3 separate regions of the Homo sapiens genome follow, and all the other regions are linked to region 1. The links come from fine-mapping of genetic effects on gene expression. A gene starts in region 1. Each other region holds a variant in brackets. All regions are shown on one strand. Distances are from middle to middle. Region 1 holds the start of ERVK3-1 (endogenous retrovirus group K3 member 1). Region 2 overlaps ZNF544 (zinc finger protein 544). Region 3 holds the start of RPS5 (ribosomal protein S5).

Region 1 (5,249 bases):
TATGTTTCCATTTATGTAAAGAAGAAACAGGCTAGGCAAGGTGACTCACGCCTGTAATCCCAGCACTTTGGGAGGCCGAGGCGGGTGGATCACCTGAGGTCCGGAGTTCAAGACCAGCCTGACCAACACGGTGAAACCCCATCTCTACTAAAAATACAAAAGCTGGGTGTGGTGGTGCACACTTCTAATCCCAGCTACTCCGTAGGCTAAGGCAGGAGAATCGCTTGAACCCAGGAAGTGGAGGTTGCAGTGAGCCAATATTGTGCCATTGCACTCCAGCTTGGGCAACAAGAGCGAAACTCCATCTCAAAAATAAATAAATAAATAAGAAACATTTGTTTATATGTACACACATAATCTCTGAAAGGGTAAAAGTGGCATACTGGTTGGCCAGAAGAATTGGGAGGACAGTGATGAGGAATAATTTTCACTCTTTATCATTTTATATTTTTGGAATTTTGAAACATGTAAAATTATTACCAGTTCAAAAAATAAATTTAAACAAAAATCTTAACTGTTTCAAATTAAAGTAAGTTTGATAATTTCTTTCATTGTTTACTGTCTGCATCCCCCATACAGTGTTCACATGAGCAGAGAGTGTGTGTCTTGGTCATATTCATACTTGTTCTATATATACTCGTGTGTGTGTGTGTGTTCAGTTGACAGAAACAGTTGAGTGTAAAACAGCTTCAACTCGATGATACCAAAGATACAAGATAAAGGTCCCTGGAGGGTGGCTGTAGCGCACACATACATTTCCAAGTTACTTTGTTAAATTTCCTGTATCAATGAGCCCCAATTATGAGAGCCCCCTACATACAAGTTTTAGCCAATAGCCAAGTCCCCCATTTCCAGTGTTATCTTCATGTCCTCCAAGGTATTCAAGTTGTTTCTGCAATGGGTAACTGGGAAGAAATCAGCATCCAGTCTGAAAAGCAGTCTCCCATAGGTCTTTTGTAAGGAGATCCAACATGGACATCTTCCAGAATGCACTGTACAACATGGTAGCCACTAGTCATGTATAGCTATTTAGATGTAAATTTTTTTAATTAAAAAAATTTTTCATTTATAGCAACAGGGACTCACTGTGTTGCCCAGGTTGGTCTCGAATTCCTGGGCTTTAGTGGTTCTCCCACTGTGGCCTCCCAAAGTGCTGGGATTACAGGCGTGAGCCACCATGCCCGGCCCAGAGCTGATAGAATTTTTAAAGTCCCCCTGTGATGATCTGACTGTGGTAGGAGTAGGGAGGTGTAACCCGAGTCAGTATGCACATTGGGAGCCTCCTCCACTAGGTCATACAGGCCTTCTGCGTGTAGATGGAATTATCATGTCCCACACTGTACCCCGGCACCTCCCTCGATTAAGGTGATTTGCATCATGCAGGGCCTGCCTGTTATCAGAGAGTCTCCTGGACATACAGAAATAGGAATGTACAGGGACTGCATACACCTGTTGCTCAATTTCTAGCTAAATGGCTGGAGGTGGGGGATAAAGAAATGGCATTCATACGGTGTAATACTAGCCATGTTTCAGAAAGTTTTCAAAAAATGTTTAGTGGAGAAATGTGCAGGGTCAGTGGAAGAAAACCTGTAAAATTATATTATGATTGTTTTATACTCTATACGGACAAGCCTAAATTGGAGGGCATTTTGGAAAACTCGCTTGGATACATGAAAACTGCCAAGATCATTATAAAGAAACAACAGGATCCATTCTAGATTGAAAGCAACTTGAAATGAGACAGTAGAGTGTAATGCGTGTTTAGTTTGTGCTTGAATAAAAGACGAAAACTACGTAAGACATTGGGACAACTGGAGAAATTAGCATATGGGCTGGGGATTGGGTACAGGCTTCAATGTCGTTACTTGGGTGAGTTGAAGAATGTACGTGTTCTTAGGGGACATCTGCTTAAGGATATACAAGGTTCAGGGGGGAAAAATATCTCCAAACGATATACTTTTATATCTATGTGTGTACATGTGTGCGCGTAGAGAAAGAAAAAAGTACATACGCTGTATATTTCAAAGAACATATAAAACCATGGATGTCAATATACTTCCCTTCCGGTGCGCTGCCTGCGCAGAACCGAGAGGTTCTGACGATCCGCAGCTCCCACGCTCCCCTTCCGGCCCCGCAGCGCTGTGAACTCCATTTCCCAGAAGGCCTTGTATCCCGTGCATGGCCGTTTCCAGGCAGGAAGGCGAAGGGCCTTCTGGGAGGTGAGGTCCTGGGCGGCCGCTGGCCACCAGGCGGAAGTGCGTACCGGAAGTGCCGGCGGCAGTGTGTAAGACGCTCACGGGCGCGCGGACTATCGGGCGGCTAGGCTCTCTGAGGAGGCTGCCACAGTGGTGAGTGGTGTGTGGAGGAGAGGCGAGGGTGATTGTGAGGGATGGAGAGGCGCCCGTGGCCTAAGTGTGCTGATGGTGGGAGTGAATGAGTGGACGGGTGGGACCTGTGAGGGGAACGCGACCCCGGGTCGGCGCGGGCAGAGAGGCGCGCGGTGCGTGAGGGCGCGACCTGCCATGTCCTGCCGGGTGTCACCGCTTATGCGCCCGTGGGAGGGGAGCATTCTGTGTTGGAGGCAGAAGGAATGAGGGTCGTGACCAACTCATTATACCACTGGAGGCTCTATGAGCAAACCGCAAACTGTTCTCATGAAAGCAGGATGTTGGTAAACTGACAAACTGCGTCTGCCGCCAGAAGGAATGCTGGGGGCAGTCATGTCCCAGGTCCCCTGCTCCTTGAGGTTATCTACAGGAACATCTGGAACCTGCTGAACAAAGAAAGCAGTCATGTGGGCCTGTGTTAAATCAAATAGCTGACCGTCAGTTACCCTTTCCTCCCTATTCAGTCTACCTAACAAATATGAAGGGCTGTAAAAGCTCAGGGCCCTGTTCCCTAGAATCTAGGAGCCCCCTGACCCCTTCTTTCAAACAGATCCTTTTGTCTTTGTCTTCATTTCTGCCTTCGTTCTCCTTCGTTTGGTCCAGAAGCAACCGTGACAAGTGGTGCCCGACCAGGGACCTGAACGAGGAAGGTCTGCCAGAGCAGAGAAAGTGAAACTGATCAGACGAACTACGAACCCCTGGACGGGAGAGTCTGCCGGCGGAGAATATAAGGTCAGTTCCCTGAGAAGGTATCGGGAGCGGGAGGTTTCTGAATCAGGGTAACATGGGGCAGAATCTGTCTGTTGAGGAGCAACATTATGTGCAGCTGCTTAAAGTTTTACTTAAACAATCTGGTGCTCGGGTTAGTTCTCAAACATTAAGCTTCTGCAGGAGGTTATTACACATAACCCATGGTTTCTGCAGACAGGTACTCTTGCTGTGGAAAATTGAGACTGAGTAGGAGAAAGATTGAAACGAGCTCATCAGAAAGTTCTTAAAGTGGATCCTTCTATTTTCTCTGCTTGGGGTTTGGTCTGTACTGTCCTCCTGCCATTGTCCTCTTCTTATTCTGCCAGACAGCAGGTGCTATGTTCTGAATCTCAAAAATTGAAAGAATCTTTTGTCTCACCAGCAGCGCCCATTGAAAATGATAAACAGGAGAGGGAGGATGAGAACTGGCCTGTACTGTCCCCTCCAGTAGCAGAAATAGAGACCCCAGTACAAAAAATTCTACATGCTGTGGCCATAGCTGGCGAGCCACTAGGACCTTGCACTTTTCCTATTACCTTAAGGCCTGATCCAAATAATCCACAGCAGTTTATTCATGAACACACTCCAGTAAAATTTAAATTATTGAAAGAATTAAAAGCTAGTGTGGTTAATAATGGAATACAGAGCCCATTTACTTTAGGATTGTTAGAATCTGTATTCAGCACTATGCGCCTCCCACCCTTGGATATAAAGCATTTAGCTTGCACTTGTTTCTCTGCTAGTGCATATTTGACATGGAATTTAAATTGGCAAGAAATGTGTGCAGACCAGGCTAGACAGAATCTCACCGCTGGACATGGGAACATTACAGAGGAAATGCTATTGGGTAGTGACTCTTATTCAGATCTGGTGCAACAATTGACACTTCCAGATGCTGCTTACCATCAGTGCGCCTGGCCGCTAAGCGTGCCTGGGCCACCATTCCTGAGAAAGGGGTCTCAATAAAATCTTTTCCGCATATCATGCAAAAATCACAGGAGCCCTTTGCACAATTTATTGCACAGTTACAACAGTCAGTGAGGCATCAGATTCCTCATACTGCTCCTGCGAAAATGCTTACTTTGACCCTAGCTTTTGAAAATGCAAATGCAGATTGTAAATGTGCATTAGCACCCGTGAGATGTACAAACAGCTTGGGAAATTTTCTCAAAGCCTGTCAGGATGTGGGAACTGAACTCCATCGTTCAACTGTGTTAGCTCAAGTAATAGCTAATTTAGTAGTGAACAAATCTGAAAAGGGCCAAGGGTTGAGCCCTAAAGTGGGAAAATGTTATAATTGTGGAAAAATTGGACATTTCAAAAAAGAATACCATCAGACCTCTGGGCAGAAGGGATCTTACAATGCAATACCGCCCCCCCCTCCCCGCCCCGCTCCCCCCAACACACACACACAGAAAAAAAAACACCAGGACTTTGCCCTCGCCGTAATAAAGGAAATCATTGGGCTAATCAGTGTTGCTCAAAATTTCATCAGAATGGCACCCCGCTCTCAGGAAATGAGAATGGGGCCTGGGCCCCTCAAACAATGAGGGCATTCCCCATCCAGGCCACAACCCTGCTACAGGGGTGGGTTCCTGGAGGAACATTGACTCCCTCTCCTCTGGAACACCGGGGAGTGCAGGATTAGATCGCTCAGTCAGAGAATGGGTCACGTTAGTTGGAGGAGACAAACCCACCAGAATTCCCACAGGCATTTGGGAACCTTTGCCAACAGGATATACAGGATTAATTTTAGGCCAAAGCCATCTGAACTTACAGGGCATTACTGTGATCCCTGGATTGTTGACTCTGATTATGAAGGAGAAATTCAAGTAATTGTAATGTCACAAGATCTTTGGGTTTTTAAACCTGGGAAATATATTGCTCAGCTATTGCTTATTATTATTCTCTGCAAATTACACCCTTCTTCACGAAAGGAGAAAAGAGGAAATCAAGAATTTGGGAGTACAACTACACAGGAAATTTACCTATCCCAACCCATAGCTTCTAATTGACCCACCTGTGCAGTGCAAATTAAAGGAAAGAAGTGTTGTGGGTGTATGGACACAGGAGCAGATGTTTCAGTAATATCCAAAAACAATTGGCCCCTGC
Region 2 (5,249 bases), 58 kb before region 1:
TCTAGTCCTATTGGATTAGGGTCCCACCCTTGTGACTTCATTTAATCTTAATCACCATTTTTTTTTTTTGAAACGGAGTCTCGCTCTGTTGCCCAGGCTGGAGTGCAGTGGCACAATCTCAGCTCACTGCAACTCCGCCTCCTGGTTTCAAGCAATTCTCCTGCCTCGGCCTCCCAAGTAGCTGGGATTACAGGTGCCCGCCACCACACCCAGCTAATTTTTTGTAGAGATGGGATTTCACCATGTTGGCCAGGCTGGTTTCGAACTCCTGACCTCAAGTAATCCACCCATCTCGGCCTCCCAAAGTGTTGGGATTACAGGCATGAACCACCGCGCCCGACCCCCTGTCACCTTCTTGAACAGTTCTTAAACAGTTAAAATTAATCACCTTGTTTGTGGGGTTTTTTTTTTTTTTTTCTTTTGAGATGGAGTCTCACCCTGTCACCCAGGCTGGAGTACAATGGCGCGATCTCAGCTCACTGCAACCTCTGCCTCCAGGTTCAAGCGATTCTCCTGCTGCAGCCAGGAAGAGTAGCTGGGATTACAGGCATGTGCCACCATGCCTGGCTAATTTTTGTATTTTTAGTAGAGACGGGGTTTCACCATGTTGGCCAGGCTGGTCTCGAACTCCTGACCTTGTGATCTGCCCGCCTCGGCCTCCCAAAGTGCTGGGATTACAGGCGTGAGCCACCGTGCCCGGTCAATCACCTTCTTCAACAGTCACTTTGGGAGTTAGGGTTCAACATGTGAATTTTGGGAACACAGTTTATTCTATAGCATTAGCCTTTTGAAAACACACCACAGCCCTGATTTGTCCTACAGGCTGCAGTTTTCCCACCCCGATTTAGAGTGTCTTTCTTACCTCATTTCGAATCTGTGATTTTTGTAGAGAGGAAGTGGGTGAGGATCTCCTAGTGGAGTTCCTGTCATTTCCAGTCTAGAAATCAGGACCACTGCTGTGACTGGCAAGAGGTGAGATGCCCAGAAAAGGAATGGTACAGACCACATACATGGAGCTGTCCCAGTCCGTTTGGGTTGCTATAATAAGATACCTTAGAGTGAGCAATTTACAAACAACAGAATTGACTGCTCATAGTTCTGGAGGCTGGTAAGTCCAAGATCAATGTGTCAACAGAGTTGGTCTGGTTGGGGCCTGCTGTCTCATAGATGGCACCTCTTACATGTCCTCATATGGTAGAAGGTGAACACAGGCTCCCTCAAGCCTCTTTTATGAGGACATTAATTGCCTTGTAAAGACCCCACCTCTTAACACTATCTCACTGGGTATTAGGTTCCAATGTATGAATTTTACGGGGGGACACCAACATTTAGGCCTTAACAGGTACCTCCGTGAGGGCATGAGGACCTGGGGTCTCTGAGCAGTAACAAGTGCCCTGTTTCAGGCATCTGTGTGCTTCGAGGATGTGGCTATGGCATTCACACAGGAGGAGTGGGAACAGCTGGACCTGGCCCAGAGGACACTGTACCGAGAGGTGACACTGGAGACCTGGGAGCATATTGTCTCCCTGGGTAAGTGGCTGTGCTCATGGAAGGAGGTTCTACCCCTAGGACTCAAAGCTGTACCAAGTTCTGAAGGGTGTTCTGGGATGTGCTGGAAGATACTGGAAGCAGGTCCCTTTCAGGTGCAGTTCCCAGGGGTTGCCCTTCATTCTATCTCTGGGACAGGTTTGTGACTTGTAGTCCTAACAGTGGGGAGTTTCCTCGGGACAGCACTAGGGGCTGAAGCTTGGACCCAGGACATGGTTCTTGGTGTCCAAGCAGAGGGGCAAGTCCTTTTTCCGTCTTTGACCAGGGCTTTTCCTTTCCAAATCTGATGTGATCTCTCAGCTGGAGCAAGAAGAGGACCTGTGCAGGGCAGAGCAGGAGGCCCCCCGAGGTAAGAGCAGACCTTGTGGTGAGCAGCTCAACGTTTAACAAGCTTGGACAGAGAGCTCTCCGCAGGGCCCCAGGGGCCAAGGAGGGAGCCTTGTTTGGAGGAAGCCTCCTTGGGTGCTCTTTGCAGCAGTTCACCCATTCAAAGGAGTTCACCAATTCGAAGTATGCAGTTCATGGCTTCCAGTGTCTTCCCTGAGTGTGGAACCCTCACCACAATCAGTTCTAGAACATGTTCATCATCCCAACCATTTAGGCCTCTTTACTTGATTTGTTTTTTTTTAATTAATGTATGTATTTATTTATTTATTTTGAGATAGGGTTTTACTCTGTTGCCCAGGCTGAAGTGCAGTGGCGCTGTCTTGGCTCACTATAGCCCCCATCTCCCTGGCTCAAGCAATTCTCATGCGTCAGCCTCCCTAGTAGCTTGGACTACAGGTGCACACTGCCACACCTGGCTAATTCTTTTGTTTTTGTTTTTGTTTTTTAAGACGGAGTTTCGCTCTTGTTGCCCAGACTGGAGTGCAATGGCACAATCTCGGCTCACCACAACCTCCACCTCCCAGGTTCAAGTGATTCTCCTGCCTCAGCCTCCCAAGTAGCTGGGATTACAGGCATGTCCACCATGCCCGGCTAATTTTTTGTATTTTTAGTGGAGACAGAGTTTCACCGTGTTAGCCAGGATGGTCTTGATCTCCTGACCTCATGATCCGCCCGCCTCAGCCTCCCAAAGTGCTGAGATTACAGGTGTGAGCCATCACGCCTGGCCCTAATTTTGTATTTTTATTAGAGGTGGGGTTTCTCCATGTTGGTCAGGCTGGTCTCGAACTCCCGACCTCAGGTGATCCACCTGCCTCAGCCTCCCAAAGTGCCGGGATTACAGGTATGAGCCACTGCACCTGGCCATTAATTTT[T/C]GTATTTTTAATGGAGATAGGGTTTCATCATGTTGCCCAGGCTAATAGACTTTATTTTTTAGAGCAGTTTTAGGTTTATAGGTAAGTTGACGAGAAAGTGCAGAGTTCCCACCCATGTCTGCTGTCCTACAGACACATGCAGTGTCTCCTGCTGTTAACAACTTGGATTTGTATTGTACATCTGTTACAATCGGCAAACCTATCTTGAGGCATCCTTTTTTTTTTTCCCAGACAGAGTCTCACTCTGTCACCAGGCTGGCGTACAGTGGTGTGATCTCAGCTCACTGCAACCTCCGCCCCCCAGGTTCAAGTGATTTTCCTGCCTCAACCTCCCAACTAACTGGGACTACAGGCACGCACCACCACGCCCAGCTAATTTTTGTATTTTTAGTAGAGTCAGAGTTTCACCATGTTGGCCAGGATGGTCTCGATCTCCTGACCTCATGATGCGCCCCCCTCAGCCTCCCAAAGTGCTGGGATTACAGGCGTGAGCCACTACCCCTTGCCCTTGAGGCATCATTATCACCCAAAGTCCATAGTTTATGATAGGGTTCATGCTTTTTTTTTTCTTTTTTTTTTTTTTTTTTTGAGACAGTGATGCAGTCATAGCTTAAGCCTTCTGGGCTTAAGTGATCCTCCCACCTCTCTGCACCCCAGCCTCAGGTGCCACAGCATGCACCACCATGCCTGGCTAATGTAAAAATTTTTTGTAGAGATGGAGTGTCACTGTGTTGCCCAGGCTTGTCTTGAACTCCTGGGCTCAAGTGATCCTCCCACCTCAGCCTCCCAAAGTGCTGGGATTACATGTATGAGCCACTGCACCTGGCCAGGCTTCACTCCTGATGTTGTATATTCTGTGCATTTGGACAAATGTACAATGTCATGTATCCACCATTATAGTATCAGACAGAGTAGTTCCACTACCCTAAATATTCTCTGTGCTCTACCCATTCATCCCTCCCTCATCCCCAGCCCCTGGTGTTACTGGTGGAGGATGTGCAGGTTCTTGGCATTTTGAACAAAGAATTGGACAAAATGCATAAAACAATGAAAGAATGAAGCAAAAAAAGCATAGATTTATCAAAATGAAAGTACACTCCACACAATGGGAGTGGTCTGGAGCAAGCAGCTCAAGAGCACTGGTTACAGAATTTTCTGGGGTTTAAATCCCGAGAGGTTTCCCATTGGTTACTTGGTTTATATCCTCTGTAAATGAAGTAGTGGCCCATAACTAGTCTGATTGGTTGGGGAAGGTGACCAACAGAGGCTGAAGTGAAGTTACAAAGTTACACCTCTATGCAGATGAAAACTAGGCCAGTGACCAGTCTCATTGGTTGCAGGAAGAGGTACTTTCCATTTTTCATCTGCGACACAGAAGGCGGGGGTTGCCTCTGATCCTTTTGTTATTTGGGGCATGGAAAGTTTGGGTTTTCCTTTTGATTCAGTTCCAGGAAGTCAGCATTAATCACCCTTAGGTTTCTTGCCTCCATACCCTGTTCTCATACCTCATTTCCCCCCGAAAGACATGATCCTCATAAATCTTTATGGGAGGTAAAGGGATTGATAGTCTTTCTTCTGTAACTGCTTTATGCTGACCTGAGGCACAGTCCCTACGTACTGGGGAATCACAGGACTCTCTCCCCGCCCTGTCTAGTGGAGACAGGATAGCTTCTTGATGGCCAGGGGTGGTGTCTCCACCTGGAACTGGCTGGAAACATTGTCACATGATCATCTGAAGCTTGATGGTCTCTAGGTGACAGGAAATGAATTTGGTTAAGAGTTTAACAAACATGGTCCAAAAACCAAGGCAAGTATAGTCATTACTAATGGGCTGGCCAGAGGAAGGAGCCATGAACCCCAACTTAGCATTTTTGACCAGGAGCCCCATGACTCAGATAGCTGTTGTTGTATTTTAGAGGCCCAGTTGGGTAGTTTTTGGGTGGCATTTGTTACTAATCCTCATTGTTCGGCATAAAAACAGCATTCTTCCTCTAGAAAAAGACCTAAGCCCCCCTTTACAGCAGTTAGGAGATCTCATCCCCTTCTGTTTTGCCAAGCAACTGCTGCTGAGGCATCTATTTGATTTCGTATGGTGATGATACTTTGGCCAATGTCTCTATTTTTTCTTTTTTACTTTGGGCAATGTCATTCAAGCTTTCCATAAAATCCTTGGAAAAGCATTGGTAATAGGATAGGGATGTTACAACCCGGCTGACTCCCATTCCCAGTCCCGCGGTTATTTGTAGTCCTACCAAAAGGGATGTGAGTTGGATGGTTCATTTGTGTCTGGCAATTGCAGTTAAAGGTATAATGAGGGATTGGTTCTTGGGAGCTATATTAATTTCACAGGCTAAATAAACAAGTGTAAAGGTTCTAGTCCAATTGGCTGGTAAACATAAGTAAGAACTAGTTCCACACAGGTAAAAGGCTCCTAGTTTTTCA
Region 3 (5,175 bases), 84 kb after region 1:
GAACCCAGCGTGGTATGGCAGGAAAGGTCGAGCAGGGAAACAGGCCCAGCCAGAGGCTCGGGATCCGGGGCTCGCGAGCGTGGTGCTCCTGGGCCGGGCGGTGGGGGAGGGGCCGCGTGTGGCAGGCACATGCGCACGGCAACCTGGACCTGCGGAGGGCGGCGGTGACCACTGGGCCTCACTCCGCTAACCCAGGTCCGCATCAGGCGCGTGCCGGTGAGGCGGCTGTGGCCGCGGCGAGGAGTCAGAGGGAACTGAACTGGCTACTCCCGCGGCAGGTGGGATTTAAGGTCAGCAGCTGAACAAAGAAGCGAGCGCTGGCCAGACTTTTTTCTTTATTAGACATGGCTGCGTTGGTCTCACGGAAATCTCTGCGCTTTTGCAGGCGCCCACAAGACAGGGCAACTACGGGGTAGCGGACATCCGCCAGGCACGCTTCTAGGGCCGCTTCTGCAACTGCGCATGCGCTTGGGCTGCACCCATTCCGTCTAGCCCAAAAGGTTCCTCTACAACCTTCCTCCGGATTGGTCTATAGGGACACGATGGCCTTTTACGCAAGCGTCACCCGTGCTGACCCGGAAGTTTTCTTCCCAGTTAAAAGTGTTGGCCCGCGGCGCGCGGCCTCTTCCTGTCTGTACCAGGGCGGCGCGTGGTCTACGCCGAGTGACAGAGACGCTCAGGCTGTGTTCTCAGGTGAGACCGCCGCGGGGCCGGGGATCCTAGGGACGGTTCATGGTCTTTCGGGGATAGTGCCCCGCGGCCTGGGCCTTTTCTCATTAGGTCTCATTTCTGTCTCTGGAAAAGAAAATGTAGAAGAAACGGGCGCGGGCCGAGTTACTCTTGACTTCTTTCTGGTGCTCCGCCGCTTCTAGCTTTTCCCCATAGCGGGGCTTGGGGAACTTGGTTTGAACTATGCGGTTGTACTCTGAGATAGGAAGTTTCCATTTCTTAGGGACACGATGCCCTCTTTTGCTCTGTGTAACTTTCCCCCCGTAATAGCAGCCCCTAGAGCCTTCATACTGTCGGTCAAGAATCGAAACCTTTGGGTTGATTGTGCCACACGGTACCTACCGTGGTCCTTGATGTCATATAACGGTCCCGCCTCACGGCCAAAGAAACAGTCCGAGACGGAACGTTGACTTGGGTCAAAGACCATGTAAATCGCGAGATTGTGGTTTGAATTACAGCCCATGCAGTGTGAGGACGTATGGCATCTGCTGAGCCATTATACCTTGGTCCCAGTGCAGCAGCTGTTGACTGGTGGCTGCCAAGTCTTGGGCCCAGGGGTTCTAGGTGAAAGACAGATGCTTCTTGCTGACAGCTGAGTAATTTTTCTAGTGCTTGAAAACACGTTCACGGCCTTTCTTGGTCCTTTGCGACCCCCCAGTTCATCACTAGATGGCGGCTAGCCTCAGAGTTGGGAATGAGTGCGCCTTTGCTCCATGCTAGCTGAGCTCTGACGTTTTTTTCCTGTCATCACCCTGTCCCAGGATGACCGAGTGGGAGACAGCAGCACCAGCGGTGGCAGAGACCCCAGACATCAAGCTCTTTGGGAAGTGGAGCACCGATGATGTGCAGATCAATGACATTTCCCTGCAGGTGAGGGGAACTTGGTGATTGGCCTTCCTGGCTGGGGGCGGACATTATTCCAGGAAGGCACACATCAAACTTGTTGCTGTGCCATTAAGTCAAGAATAGAGATCATAACAGGTAAAGAAGGGATCCCTTGACCACCACATCTACCACATCTGCTCTTACGTCCTGTTCAAAGATGACTACAACTTCTGTCATGAGAGGACTCCTTCACCAGAAGGAGCATCACATCTCACATATGGTATTTTTGTTACTGTTTTTGTAGTAAAATACATAACATCCAGTGTCATTCTTTTGCATGTGAATATCCAGTTATCCAGTACCATCTCCTAAAGAGATGTTTTTTTTCCCTCAATTGAATGGCCTTGGCCACTTGTCATAAATCAGCTGGCCGTAGTTTTTTTTTTTTTTTTTTTTTTTTGAGACGGAGTCTCACTCTGTTCCCTGGGCTGGAGTGCAGTGACGCGATCTGCCTACCGGGTTCACACCATTCTC[C/T]TGCCTCAGCCTCCTGAGTAGCTGGGACTACAGGTGCCCGCCACTGCACCTGGCTGATTTTTTTTTTTTTATTTTTAGTAGAGACAGGGTTTCACCGAGTTAGCCAGGATGGTCTCGATCTCCTGACCTCGTGATCCGCCCGTCTCGGCCTCCCAAAGTGCTGGGATTACAGGCGTGAGCCACCGCGCCCGGCCCAGATGTATGGGTTTCATTACAGACTTTCAGTTATATTCCACTGGTCTATATGTCTGTCTCTATGCCAGTACCACACTTTCTTGCTTTGTATTAAGTTTTGCAATTGGGAAGTGTGAGTTGTCCTACTTTGTTCCTACTCCGTACGGTTTTACACATACCCTTTTTTTCCCCTCCCCATGAAGGCATCATTAAGAATTTTGTGGGCCTTAAGAACTTTAGCTTTTGTGAGCCCTTCCTCCATTAAAAGAAAGTGTTTGAAATTATATTTTGTGACTGCATTGATATAAAGATGAATATAACTTGGGTTGCACTTTATTCACTTTCCTCCTCTTTTTTTTTAATCATTAAAGTTTTATCTTTGAGATAAGATCACTCTCTGTCACCCAGGCTGGAGTGCAGTGGTGTGATCACAGTTCACTGCAGCCTCAATACACCTGGGCTCAGGGGATCTTCCTGTCTTAGACTCCAACTAGCTGGGACCAAAGATGCATGCCACCAAACCTGCTACCTTTTGTTTTATAAAGAATGAAAACTTTTTTGTTGTCTGTAAAGATGTCAGGGGACTTAGGCACTATGCCTAATGGATAATTCAGCCTTGTTTTTCACTCTGAATATCTTGTAGATCTTGGCTTTTCTTTCCTTCAGGGGTTTATTTCGGGGGGTCCAAAAACATTTTAAATATTATTATTATTTTTTGTTTGTTTATTTATTTATTTATTTTTTTGAAACGGAGTTTCGCTCTTATTGCCCAGGCTGGAGTGCAATGGCACGATCTTAGCTCACCACAACCTCCGCCTCCCGGGTTCAAGCAATGCTCCCGCCTCAGCCTCCCAAGTAGCTGAGATTACAGGCGCACACCACCACGCCTGGCTAATTTTTGTATTTTTAGTAGAGACGGGGTTTCACCATGTTGGTTAGGCTGGTCTCGAACTCCTGACCTCATGATCTGCCCGGCCACATTTTAATTATTTATTTATTTTTTGAGACAGAGTTTCGTTCTTGTCGCCCAGTCTGGAGTGCAATGGTGCGATCTTGGCTCACTGCAACCTCTGCCTCCTGGGTTCAAGCGATTCTCCTGTCTCAGCCTCCCAAGTAGCGGGGATTACAGGCACATGCCACCGCACCCAGCTAATTTTTTTATTTTTAGTTGAGACAGGGTTTCATCATATTGGTCAGGCTGGTCTCTTAACTCCTGACTTCAGGTGATCAGCCTGCCTCAGCCTCCCAAAGTGCTGGGATTACAGGCATGAGCCACCACGCCTGGCGTTATTTATTTATTTGTGAGACAGAGTCTCTCTCTGCCTCCCAGGCTGGAGTGCAGTGGTGCGATCTCGGCTCACTGCAACCTCTGCCTCCCCAGGGTCATGCGACTTTCCTGCCTCAGCCTCCCGAAGTGCTGGGGTTATAGGCATGAGCCACTGCGCCCAGCCCACAAACATTTTCATTATAGGCCCAGATAATGTTTTAGACTTTGTGGGCCACACTGGCCACTGTTACTTTTTTTTTTTTTTTTTTTTTTTTTTTTTGAGATGGAGTCGCTCTGTCACCCAGGCTGGAGTGCAGTGGCACGATCTCGGCTCACTGCAACCTCCACCTCCTAGGTTCAGGTGATTTTCCTGCCTCAGCCTCCCTAGTAGCTGGAACTACAGGTGCATGCCACCACACCTGGCTAATTTTTGTCTTTTTAGTAGAGACAGGGTTTCACCATGTTGGCCAGGCTGGCCTTGAACTCCTTGATCTATTAAACGTTTGTTAAGTGCCTGTTCCACTAGGGAAATAAACATCAATGGGAGTTCACTGTATTTTAAACACCTGTGCAGGGCTCCACTGTTGGGCCAAACCCTTCCTGGGGAATTTGGTGTTTGCAATTTTTTGCTGCATAGTGAAAGCCCTGCGTGAATGCCCTTCACGAGACTGTGAGTTTTTTTTTTCTTGCAGCCAGACTATGAAATAGTACTGAGAGTTTCAGTGTCCTGTGTTCTTTTCCCATCATTCCTTGTATTTGTAGAAACAGGTATTTTGTGTATATTCTCAGAGGCAAGTGATAGAATGGCCTTGGGTACATTTTGTAATGGAACTATCAACAGCAGTCTCCTTCGAATGCACATAGCTCCTTTCTTCCCCTTTACATACTCAAGGTTAACTTTTTGGCATTTTTCTAGATTTTTGTGTGGGGATGGCTATGTAAGTATAAGAAGACTTGTTAAATGATTGTTTTAAAACTGTGGTTCTGGGCCGGGCGCCGTAATCCCAGCACTTTGGGAGACTGAGGCGGGCAGATCATCTGAGGTCAGGGGTTTGAGACCAGCCTGGCCAACATGGTGAAGCCCCGTCTCTACTAAAAATACAAAAATTAGCCTTGCATGGTGGCGTGCACCTGTTGTCCCAGCTACTTAGGAGGCTGATGCAGGAGAATCGCTTGAACCTGGGAGGTGGAGGTTGGGATGAGCTGAAATCATGCCATTGCACTCCAGCCTGGCCAACAAGAGCGAAACTCCATCTCAAAAAAAAAAAAAAAAAAAACTGGGCTGAGCATGGTGACGCATGTCTGTAATCCCAGCAACTTGGGAGGCTGAGGCAGGAGAATTGCTTCAACCCAGGAGGTGGAGGTTGCAGTGAGCCAAGATTGCAACGTTGCACTCCAGCCTGGGTGACAGAGTGAGACTCCATCTCAAAAACAAACAAACAAAAAACCCAAAAACAAAAAAGTTCTCAGCCAGGTGCAGTGGCTTATGCCTGTAATCCCATCACTTTGGGAGGCTGAGGCGGACGGATCACCTGAGGTCAAGAGTTCAAGACCAGCCTGGCCAACATGTCCAAACCCCAGCTCTACTAAAAATACAAAAATTAGCCTGGCATGGTGGCATGCACCTGTAGTCCCAGCTACTCAGG

Evidence for each region. PIP is the estimated chance that this variant, and not a neighbour inherited with it, causes the effect.
Region 2: its variant is fine-mapped to the expression of ERVK3-1 in substantia nigra (GTEx, PIP above 0.99). The same link has a PIP of 0.9 or more in whole blood.
Region 3: its variant is fine-mapped to the expression of ERVK3-1 in putamen (GTEx, PIP 0.98).

What each region holds. Positions count from the first base shown.
Region 1 is chr19:58,303,098-58,308,346 of GRCh38, forward strand. It overlaps ERVK3-1 (endogenous retrovirus group K3 member 1), which reads left to right and starts at 2,280. Exons shown (of 4, transcript NM_001396080.1): 1 at 2,280-2,348; 2 at 2,991-3,119. ZNF8-ERVK3-1 (ZNF8-ERVK3-1 readthrough (NMD candidate)) reads left to right here. Exons shown (of 7, transcript NR_144447.1): 5 at 2,991-3,119. RefSeq lists enhancers at 2,002-2,271, 2,486-2,986.
Region 2 is chr19:58,244,898-58,250,146 of GRCh38, forward strand. ZNF544 (zinc finger protein 544) reads left to right here. Exons shown (of 7, transcript NM_014480.4): 5 at 1,404-1,530; 6 at 1,814-1,897. Among named protein-coding and RNA genes, the nearest start is that of ZNF544, 19 kb to the left of the region's middle. The variant T/C (reference allele first, on the strand shown) is at 2,808.
Region 3 is chr19:58,386,647-58,391,821 of GRCh38, forward strand. RPS5 (ribosomal protein S5) reads left to right here and starts at 623. Exons shown (of 6, transcript NM_001009.4): 1 at 623-693; 2 at 1,491-1,599. The coding sequence starts at 1,492. MIR4754 (microRNA 4754) reads right to left here and starts at 212; the gene lies at 124-212. RefSeq lists enhancers at 396-690, 884-933. The variant C/T (reference allele first, on the strand shown) is at 2,089.